Regions from separate parts of the Homo sapiens genome. Here region 1 is linked to region 2. Evidence: fine-mapped expression QTL. A gene starts in region 2. The other region holds a variant in brackets. All regions are shown on one strand. Distances are from middle to middle. Region 1 overlaps AKNA (AT-hook transcription factor). Region 2 holds the start of AKNA (AT-hook transcription factor).

Region 1 (4,385 bases), 20 kb before region 2:
AATATGCCCTCTGTACTGTGCAAAGGTCCTTATCATGGGCATCTATTACCTGCTCAAAAAAGTTTAATTACAAAAAAAGGCAAGGGATGATGTAAGGTTCGGTTTTAAGAAAGCTCTAGATCAGTGTGAAATATAGAAATGTATATTATATAATCATATTACATAATTTTATAATATATAAAATAGAACTATAATGTGAGCTACACCATCTATAATTTTCTCATAGCCACATTGAGAATGTAAAAAGAAACAGGTAAAATTAATTTTTATATTTTATTTAGCCCCAAATATCATTTCAACATGTAATCAATACTAAAAAAATAGGGAGACACTTTATATTTCTAAGTCTCTGAAATCTGGCATGTGTTTCATACCCACAGCACGTCTCAATTCAGAGCAGCCCATGTCAAGTACTCAACAGTCACATGTGGCCAGCAGCTTCTGAATTGGACCGTGCAGCACTAGACATGAGGGGTCAGCTAAGGCCCCAGCTCCTGCTCAGTGTGATGATTTGACATTGCTTTATTTTGTGGACAACATATAGGACGAAGAAGAAATGTGTCTCCGGCTACGGAACCAAGAATGGTGGTGGCAAAAGGAAACGAAGCCTGTAATCCCAGCACTTTGGGAGGCCGAGGCAGGCATATCACCTGAGGTCAGGAGCTCAAGACCAGCCTGGCCAACATGGTGAAACCCCATCTCTACTAAAAATACAAAAATTAGCCAGGCATGGTGGCGCGTGCCTGTAATCTCAGCTTCTAGGGAGGCTTGAGGCAGGAGAATTGCTTGAACCCGGGAAGCGGAGGTTGCAGTGAGCCAAGACTGCACCACTGCACTCCAGCCTGGGCAACAGAGTGAGACTCTGTCTCAAAAAAAAAAAAAAAGAAGAAAAGAAATGAAGTACTTGTATGTGCTACTCCAACAAGGATTAACTTTGAAAACATCATGGTAAGTGACAGATGTCAGACACAGGACAAATATTGCGTGAATCTATTGCTATGAGACATCCACAATAGGCAAGCCTATAAAGACAGGAAGCAGAAGAGCAGCCGACGGAGGCTGGGGAAAGAGGGGATGGGGAGTGACTGCCTAATACAGATGAGGTTTCTTAGTGCGTGATGAAAATGTTCTAAAACTGACTGTGGTGATAGTGGCAGAACTGCAAATATACTAAAAACCGCTGAAGCAAGCAAACACTTTAAATGAGTCAACCGCATGGTATGTGAATTATATTTCAGTAAAGCAAGGGAAAGAAGGAGAGATGGGAGGGGAGGGAAGAGGAGAGGAGGGGAGGGGAGGAGAGAAGAGAAGAGGAGAGGGGAAGGGAGAGGAGAGGAGAGGAGGGAAGGGAAGGGAAGAATAAAATGGTGGTGCTTCTGAAAGAATTTGTTTTATGGGCATGGTAGTGCATGTAACTATTGCATTTCTCTTTTGGCATTGGCAACTAGGAAGCTCAAAGCTAAATGTGTGACTCTAATGTGCTTAGGGTCCAACAGAACATTTTATTTACTCACTCCACGTATTTTATTTTTTTCTACCCTTACTTCCTCTCTGCCCCAGTTTTCTCACTTCTGTTTTCAGAATGTGGCTAAAACGTATGTATTTTCATAAGGTGCTTTAAACCACTTCTGGAATAAAGCCAATGTACAGTTATAAACAGACCTGCAAACAATTCACGGTTACTTGGACTGTTTCATGAAGATACGAAGACCCTTGAGAAGTAACTAGGAATTGATTTATTTAATAAAATGAACTAAGAAAGTGAGGCAACTTATCCTGAAGAGGAAAAGGTAGAGTGGAGATTCTGTTACCCTTCCAGAATCCTGAAAGAGCTCAGAGTTTCCCGGGAGCCAGCCTAGAGACACTTCCAAGCACAAGTGGAGGGATTTGGATGAGATGCATTGCCAAAAAGGGGGGTGAGACCTAGCACTGGTGACAAGGAGGAGGCTGGAGCTGTGTGGCCTCTAAAACCAGGGAGGGGCTCATGTTTTGGGGATGGCTGAGTTAACTCGGTGCAGAGGCAGGGGAATGACAAGTGAGACTCCCAGAGTGCCTCTCACCCAAGCAGGCAGAGGTTCTGTGTTCTCCAGGTGAGTTAAGTCTCTCGGGGGCAAAGCTGGGAGTCCACTCACCTTGGCCAGGAACTGGCTGGCCTGAGAAGCCAGTGCCTGGGTCTGCTCTGCTGAGGACTGGTCCTCAGAGATGTCCCGGTTCTCCGGAAGCCACCCCAGGGTGGGCATGCTGGTAAGCGAGGAGGGGCTCAAGTCTCCTCGAGCTGATGGCCACCCTGGAATACACAACTGCTGAAAGCTGGGGCCAAGAACAGTCCTTCCAGGAGCTGAAGGACTGAGGCTGAACGTCAAAGCCACCACCTCCATCATCAAGTTATAGCTCAGTCACCATGTGCGATCTTCACATCAGCCCCAGGAAGTGGGCTGGGTAGAACATTGTCCCCCATTTACAAGGGAGAACAAGGTCCAGATCTGCCCCAGGCCACATGGTTGGCTGGAGCAGAGCTACGCTAGGCCTCTGGGTTC[C/G]CAGTCAACAGCGTGGGCTCTCACACAGGGAGACGTGAGTTCCAATCCAGACACTTCCCCTCCATAGCTGTATGAACTTCAGCGTGTCCTCACCTCTCCAATTGGTCCCCTTGGCTGTCATGGGTGTGACAACAGTGCACACCTCAGCGGGTTATTGTGGGGATTAAGTGAGGTCACATGTGTCAAGGCTTAGCACAGGGCCTGGCTGAGATATGGGCTCCCCAGGGACAATGCTCTATGTTTTCAACTCACCCAGGGTCACCAAGATGCCAAGTGGCAGGGCCAGGGCTGCCCCCAGGCTGCTGTGGATCAAAGCAGGACACTTTCCACATCTCTGACCCTTTTGAGTCAAAGTGCCCAGGGTGGGGCCTTGCCTCCCTCCTTCCCCTGGCCTGAGGCCAGCGCCATCCCCAGGGTGAACCAAGTCAGTCCCACAGAGCAGAATCCCAGGCAGAAGGAGCCTCCAGCTGCAGCTCTTCTCCCGGACTCACCTGAGGCCGCAGAGGCCTGGGGGTCCTCGGCCGGGCCCGGCCACCACTCTGCAGAGCGGGGCTGTGGGATGGTGAAGGACAAGACCTTGGTCCCCTGGGGCACCATTCCCGTGTGGATGCTGTGGTTGGGCTGGGGTGGGTCAGAGAACAGGTTCACCTGTGGAAGCAGGGAGGCACAGCACAGCCAAGTCAGGGTAGGGGCAAACCCACCTGAAACGCCTCATCTTCATTCAGGAGCTCAACACACATGCCCTGTAGTAATAAATACCATCTTTCAGTGCAGCCCTTGGCTAGGCCAAACACAGGTGAAGAACTGCATGCCTTTTCATTTACTCTTAATGGCAGTCCTGAAAGGAAGACAGGGTGGGGACCCCAACAGCCCATTATATAGAAGAAAAAACTGAGACACAGAGAGGTTATTAAGTCAGTTACTCAAAATCCCCAGCTGATAAGTCCTTGGATGAGGATCACAACACTGCTCTATCTGACCCCAACACCTATGGTTCTCCTATTAACAGTAATTTTTTATTAATAATGTGTGTTATAATTATATCATAATTAATATACCATATAACATATAATTATTTCTTAACAAATATAAGCATTTCTAATAATTATTATACTGATAATAATAGCAACTAATAGCTATTCGAATGAATGAGTGAACCAGCAAGTAAACAAACTAATCTGCCATTGGTAGCGGATCTCTATCATTTGAGGATGGATTTAACATGGCAGCCAGCCCAGTTGGTGAGGGAGCAGTCTGGAGTCAGGCAGGTGACCAAGGAAGGCCTCTTGAAGCTGGAAAGCAGAGGGAAACCACAGGCTGTTCAACAGCTTAAAGCAGAGTTGAGAGAACTATGTTCTGTTTTTGTAAAGAAGGTTTTATTGAACACAGCCATGCCTGTTTGTTTATGTGTTGTCTATGGCTGCTTTCACACTCTGGTGGCAGAGTTGAGTAGTTGTGACAGAGACTATATGCTCCACAAAGCCAAACATTGTCACAATCTGGCCCTTTACAGAGAAAGTTTGCCAACTCTGGCTTAGCATGTGGGCTCTGCAGCTAGAGCCCAGGTTCCTGTCTAGGCTCTACCACAGCACACCTCTGAGTCCTAGTTGGTTTAATAACCTCTCTGCGCACAAAATAAGTGCTCAATAAATAGTGGCCACCACCCTGACATTCATCACCATTATCTTCACCACCACCGTCATCACCACTACCATCATTAGCATCACCATCAGCATCACCATCAGCATCATCACCATCAGCATCATCACCACCACTGTCATTACCACCACCATCATCACCGTCAGCACCATAACAATCACTATTACCATCACCATCATTCACCATCAT
Region 2 (4,385 bases):
TGAGCCTTTCCTGAGCCAGGCCTCTGCCTTCCATGCGAGCCATGGCCCTCCTCACCACAAAGCCCCAGAACTGGCCAGTCAGCTAGTCAGTCAACAAACACACGTTAGTGCCAACTACCTGCCAACCTCAGGCTGGGACGATGCTGTGATAGAGAAGCAGGCTGGGCATCAGGAGACAGGTGCTAGTCCTGGCTGCTGTTACTCACTGTGTATAGCTGGGCTTGCATTTTCCTCACTGTAAAATAGAGAAAGTACCACCTGCTCTTGATATCGCAAGGGGATATCACCCTGCTAGGGTGGGTTGGGAGGCAGGGTATGGGACTCAAAGAGCTTTGAAGTCCCTGATTGACTCAGCTTCTAAGGGCAACAGCCTCAGAACTGTTAACCTCTCTCCTCCTCCCTGAGGTCACATTTCAAAGTACAAAGATACATACTGAGCACCCAGTGGGCGCAAATTAACTTTTTAAAAAAGCCCTATGACTTCCTACTATATACCAGGCGCTACGTAAGATGCAAAGAATATAGAAAAGAGTAAAAGTGTTCCAAGATTTTAAACGGTGGGGGGTAGTACAATACAGAAGTGTTACCAAAGGAAGCTTTAAGGTGGGCTTGAGAAACAATGAGGATTTGGGGGAGAAGACTGGGGAGGGCATTCCAGGCAGCGGGAACAGCACGGAGGCAAAGGCACGTAGGTCTGAAAGTATGGCCTGACCTTGAAGGAGAGCTATGGGCAGGTGTCCCTGCATGCCAGATAAAGGCAGAGTTGTTCCAGCCAGCCCTCGTTAGGGCAGCAGGGCTGCTCCTAAAAGGCAGTGAGTGGGGTTTGGTGAAGACTCCAGCAGTGTGAGCTGGGGAGGGCTATGGAGTTCAGGGTCCCCGCCATCCCTGGAGAAACTGGCCCCACAAGGAAGTAGCAGCCACTGCACCCTCCTTCTGCACATCTCCTTCTTACACCCAAGCCGCCACTGCCCCTGCTCTCTCAAGGGTCTAACAGACCCCTGAGGTGTCTATCTTCAGTTCCTGGGTGGGATGGACTCTTCTTCCCCACCACCCACACAGGGCTTCTCCGCCCGCTCAGTCATTCCACAGCCAGGGACCCTTCCCTTTATGGCTCAATCCCTCAGAACTGCCCAGACGCCCAGGCTCTCCTTTGCCAGCACAGCTACGCAGCCCGCACAGCCTCCCCGTGCCCTCTGCAGCCCCTTCCCATCCAGCCAGAGCTGTCCAGGGTGCCACCCTGCTTCTACCCCCACCCACACCCTGACACCTCCCAGATGAAGACACTGAGGCACAGAGACATGGCCTGCTCTCACAAGACCTCACAGCCAGGAAGCGCAGACAGAGGATTCAAAGCTGGGGTACCGCAACTCTGAAACCAAGGCTGTCAGATGTGTCAGGGAGATGGGGAAGGAAGACCACCCCCCAAATCAGTAACCAGACCTTCCAAAAAGGCTCAACCATACCCCCACCCACCTGCTGGCAGGGCACAGACTTGCTGTTCTCAAGGGGTTCCCACCAGCTGTGTGGACTCTAGTCCCACAAGGAAGCACCAGCCACTCCCTCTCTGTGTCCTCCCTGCCCCCAGCCCGCTCCAGCAGCAGAGGCCGAGGAGAAAGAGAAACGGTGCCCTGGCTGTTGCCAGCTCTGGTCTTGCCATCCTCAAGAGCTGAGCTGGGTCTGCTGGTCCTCGGACTGTCCTTGGCTCCTCTCCTTGCTCTTACGCAGCTGGCATAAGGGGCCACTCCTTCAATAGGGACCACCCCCCGGCGCCGTCGCTGCCTCCTGGCCTGCTGCCCATGCCTGCATCGTCTCTGAGACCCCTTAGCAACCAAGGACACTAACTCTCCAGGTGCAGACGACGACACCCCAGGCACAGAGATGGACCCGCCTACCCAAGTTCACAAGAGATCAGAATCAGAGCTAGGACTGGAATCTAGCATCCTGAGGCTTGACGAAATCCTCCTTAAATCCACCCTTGCCCTGGAGGCCGGGATCCCCTAAGCCAAGAGAAAAGCGGTGCAGCTCCAGCAGCTGCAACTTCCTGGCTGGGCTGGTCCGGCTGCCTGGACTGTCCCGGAGAGTCTGTGACTGGCCCGTCCAGAAGGAAAGCGGCCTCCCGGGCCCTCCTCCGTTCCAATCCCTTACCTCTCTCGGGCTCCACCACCGTCCTGCCGACCCAGTTTCAGGGGACCTGCCTGTGAATTCTTTGTTCCAAACCCAGGGAGCCCCCTGTCTCCATTGCGCCCTGGCCCACCTCCAGGCCGTTCTGCCAGCCCAAGCTGCTGCTCACAGACCAGCATCGCTCCCCACCTCTCCCCGCCCCTGCCGTGGTTGAGGCCGCCTCGCCTCGGCAGGAAGCGCCCAGCCTGATTTCCTACAAGTGTTTGTCAGAAGGAGGGGGTTTGTCTGCGTGCAGAGCAAGAGCTGGAGGAGCTTAACCCCTTGCAAGCCCTCCGCAGTCAGCGCTGCCCAGGAAAGGACTCAGGGAACAAACTCCTGACGTCCTGGGCTTGGGATCATCTCAGCCCAGGCCCTGCAGGTACAGATGGGGAGACTAAAGCACAGAGAAGGTCAGAGGCTTGGCCAAGGTCACACAGCATGCTGTAGCTCCTACCCTCTAGGCCCTCTTCAACCACGGCCTGACCTTAGCCGAGGCTCCTTCCCTCACTAGGCCTCAGGGCCCATGTGCACGGTGAGAGCTCAGACTCAACACCACTCCTGCCCTTCCAGCTCTGACTCTGCCAATGTGCAACCTGAATCTCAGGGAGACCGTGGTGATTCCTGCCATCTCAACCCACCGTCCTCACCCCGAGGTGGTCCTGCAGCCAGAGTGGGATGTTCGGGGCAGCATGGAGGTGTGAACCTGGCGGATCAGGTAAACTTTCCCTTGTTGTAAGAACCCTCCAAGGGTTCACCAGATGTTGGGAACAGATCGATCCTGATGGTCAGTCGAGCTATCTTTCCTCAAGCCCCACCATCCCATTCCTTCATTCGTAGGTACTCACTGAGCTCCTACTGTGTGGCGGGTGCTTTTAAATCACCTGGGAATATGGCAGGGCCGAAGACAGGCCAGTCCCCTGCTCTCCACTCTAGCAGAGACATGGACAATAAGCAAGCACATGTATAATTTCAAGGAGAGAGCTGTGAACAATGAGACTGGGTGACGATCCGTGTCCCAGGCCAGGTGGCACTGAAGCCTGGGGCTCACCCCAGGCCAACAGAGTCAGTCTCTGGGCATCAGACATTTTAAGTGTCCCAGGTGACTGGCCCTGGTAGAGAACACATGGGGCCAAGAGTAATGGGTTGGAGGAGAAGGGTTATAGGACGGTCAGGAAGGTCTCTATGAGGAGGTGACATTCAAATAAGGCACTGGAAGGAAGAGGGGTCAAAAGCAAGCCACAAGAAGGTTTGGGGCAGAGTGTTCTGGGAGGGCAAGTGGAAAGGCCAAGGTGGGGGAGCCAGCGGGCTTTCCCTGAGAACAGCAAGGCCTGTGTACCCGGGGCAGAGCGAGTCAAGCGGGAGAAGCAGGAGCTTCACAGAAAAGCGGGCACAGGAGCACAAGAGGCTCCCAACACTGGCCCCACCCAGGACCCAGAGACTCTGAGTCAGGAAACAAAAAGAAAGAGGAAAAAAAACAGGCCTCTGTATTGTCCAAAAAGCCCTCCAGGTAATTCTGATAAGCAGCCAGATTTGGGAACCACCCATGTAGGAGAGAAAAAAATCTCAGAGTCACTGTGGACCTGGGTTCAAATCCCAGCCCCATCTCCTGCTGGCCCTGACCTTTGAGGCTTCACGTCTCTAAGCCTCAGTTTCTTCATCTGTAAAACAGGGATAAGAAGAGTAGCCACCCCACAGGGGCTGCTATAAAGATTCAATGACATGATGCCTACCAAGGGTAGAGCGGGGGAGCCAGAACACAGTCATGTATTGAGCTATTTTATTATTGCTACTACAACTATTGCTGCTACTTAGGTATAAGTCTCTGGTCTCCTCTAAAGGCTAGATCTTAATATCTTTCCTGAAGCCTGGCACACTGTTTATGGCTGATGAATGTGTTCTGTGAATGAATGAATGAATGAATGAGTGGACGTTCCCAAGGTCAGCTTGTGAATATCTGGCGTAGCCAGGGCTAGAACCAGGAGCCCTCATCCTGGTAATCGCCCACCCCTCTATCCCCTTTCCTGCCTTTTACCCACATCTGGGTGGCAGGGCTCTCCCTGTAGCCCCCAGCCCCACATGGAGCAGAGCCAAACCCTAATGAGGCCCCTCCCTATCAGCTCTGGAGGCCATGTGTGCCATTGTGCAAGGGGCGGGCTCCCCTGACACCCTGTCACTCACTCACCCTCCCTCCCTGGTCATTAACCCAGGCAGCATTAACCCAGGTG

Evidence for each region. PIP is the estimated chance that this variant, and not a neighbour inherited with it, causes the effect. A credible set is the group of variants that fine-mapping cannot tell apart.
Region 1: its variant is the best candidate, but not a certain one, in a credible set for the expression of AKNA in whole blood (TOPMed, PIP 0.76).

The regions. Positions count from the first base shown.
Region 1 is chr9:114,365,411-114,369,795 of GRCh38, forward strand. AKNA (AT-hook transcription factor) reads right to left here. Exons shown (of 22, transcript NM_001317950.2): 5 at 3,029-3,185; 6 at 2,133-2,287. Among named protein-coding and RNA genes, the nearest start is that of AKNA, 20 kb to the right of the region's middle. RefSeq lists enhancers at 1,445-1,504, 1,525-1,614, 1,722-2,670, 2,142-2,441, 3,664-4,368. The variant C/G (reference allele first, on the strand shown) is at 2,538.
Region 2 is chr9:114,385,715-114,390,099 of GRCh38, forward strand. AKNA (AT-hook transcription factor) reads right to left here and starts at 2,268. Exons shown (of 22, transcript NM_001317950.2): 1 at 2,146-2,268. LOC124902253 (a long non-coding RNA gene) reads left to right here and starts at 2,336. Exons shown (of 3, transcript XR_007061742.1): 1 at 2,336-2,539; 2 at 2,731-2,875. RefSeq lists enhancers at 101-160, 931-1,080, 1,895-2,630, 2,101-2,230, 2,271-2,560.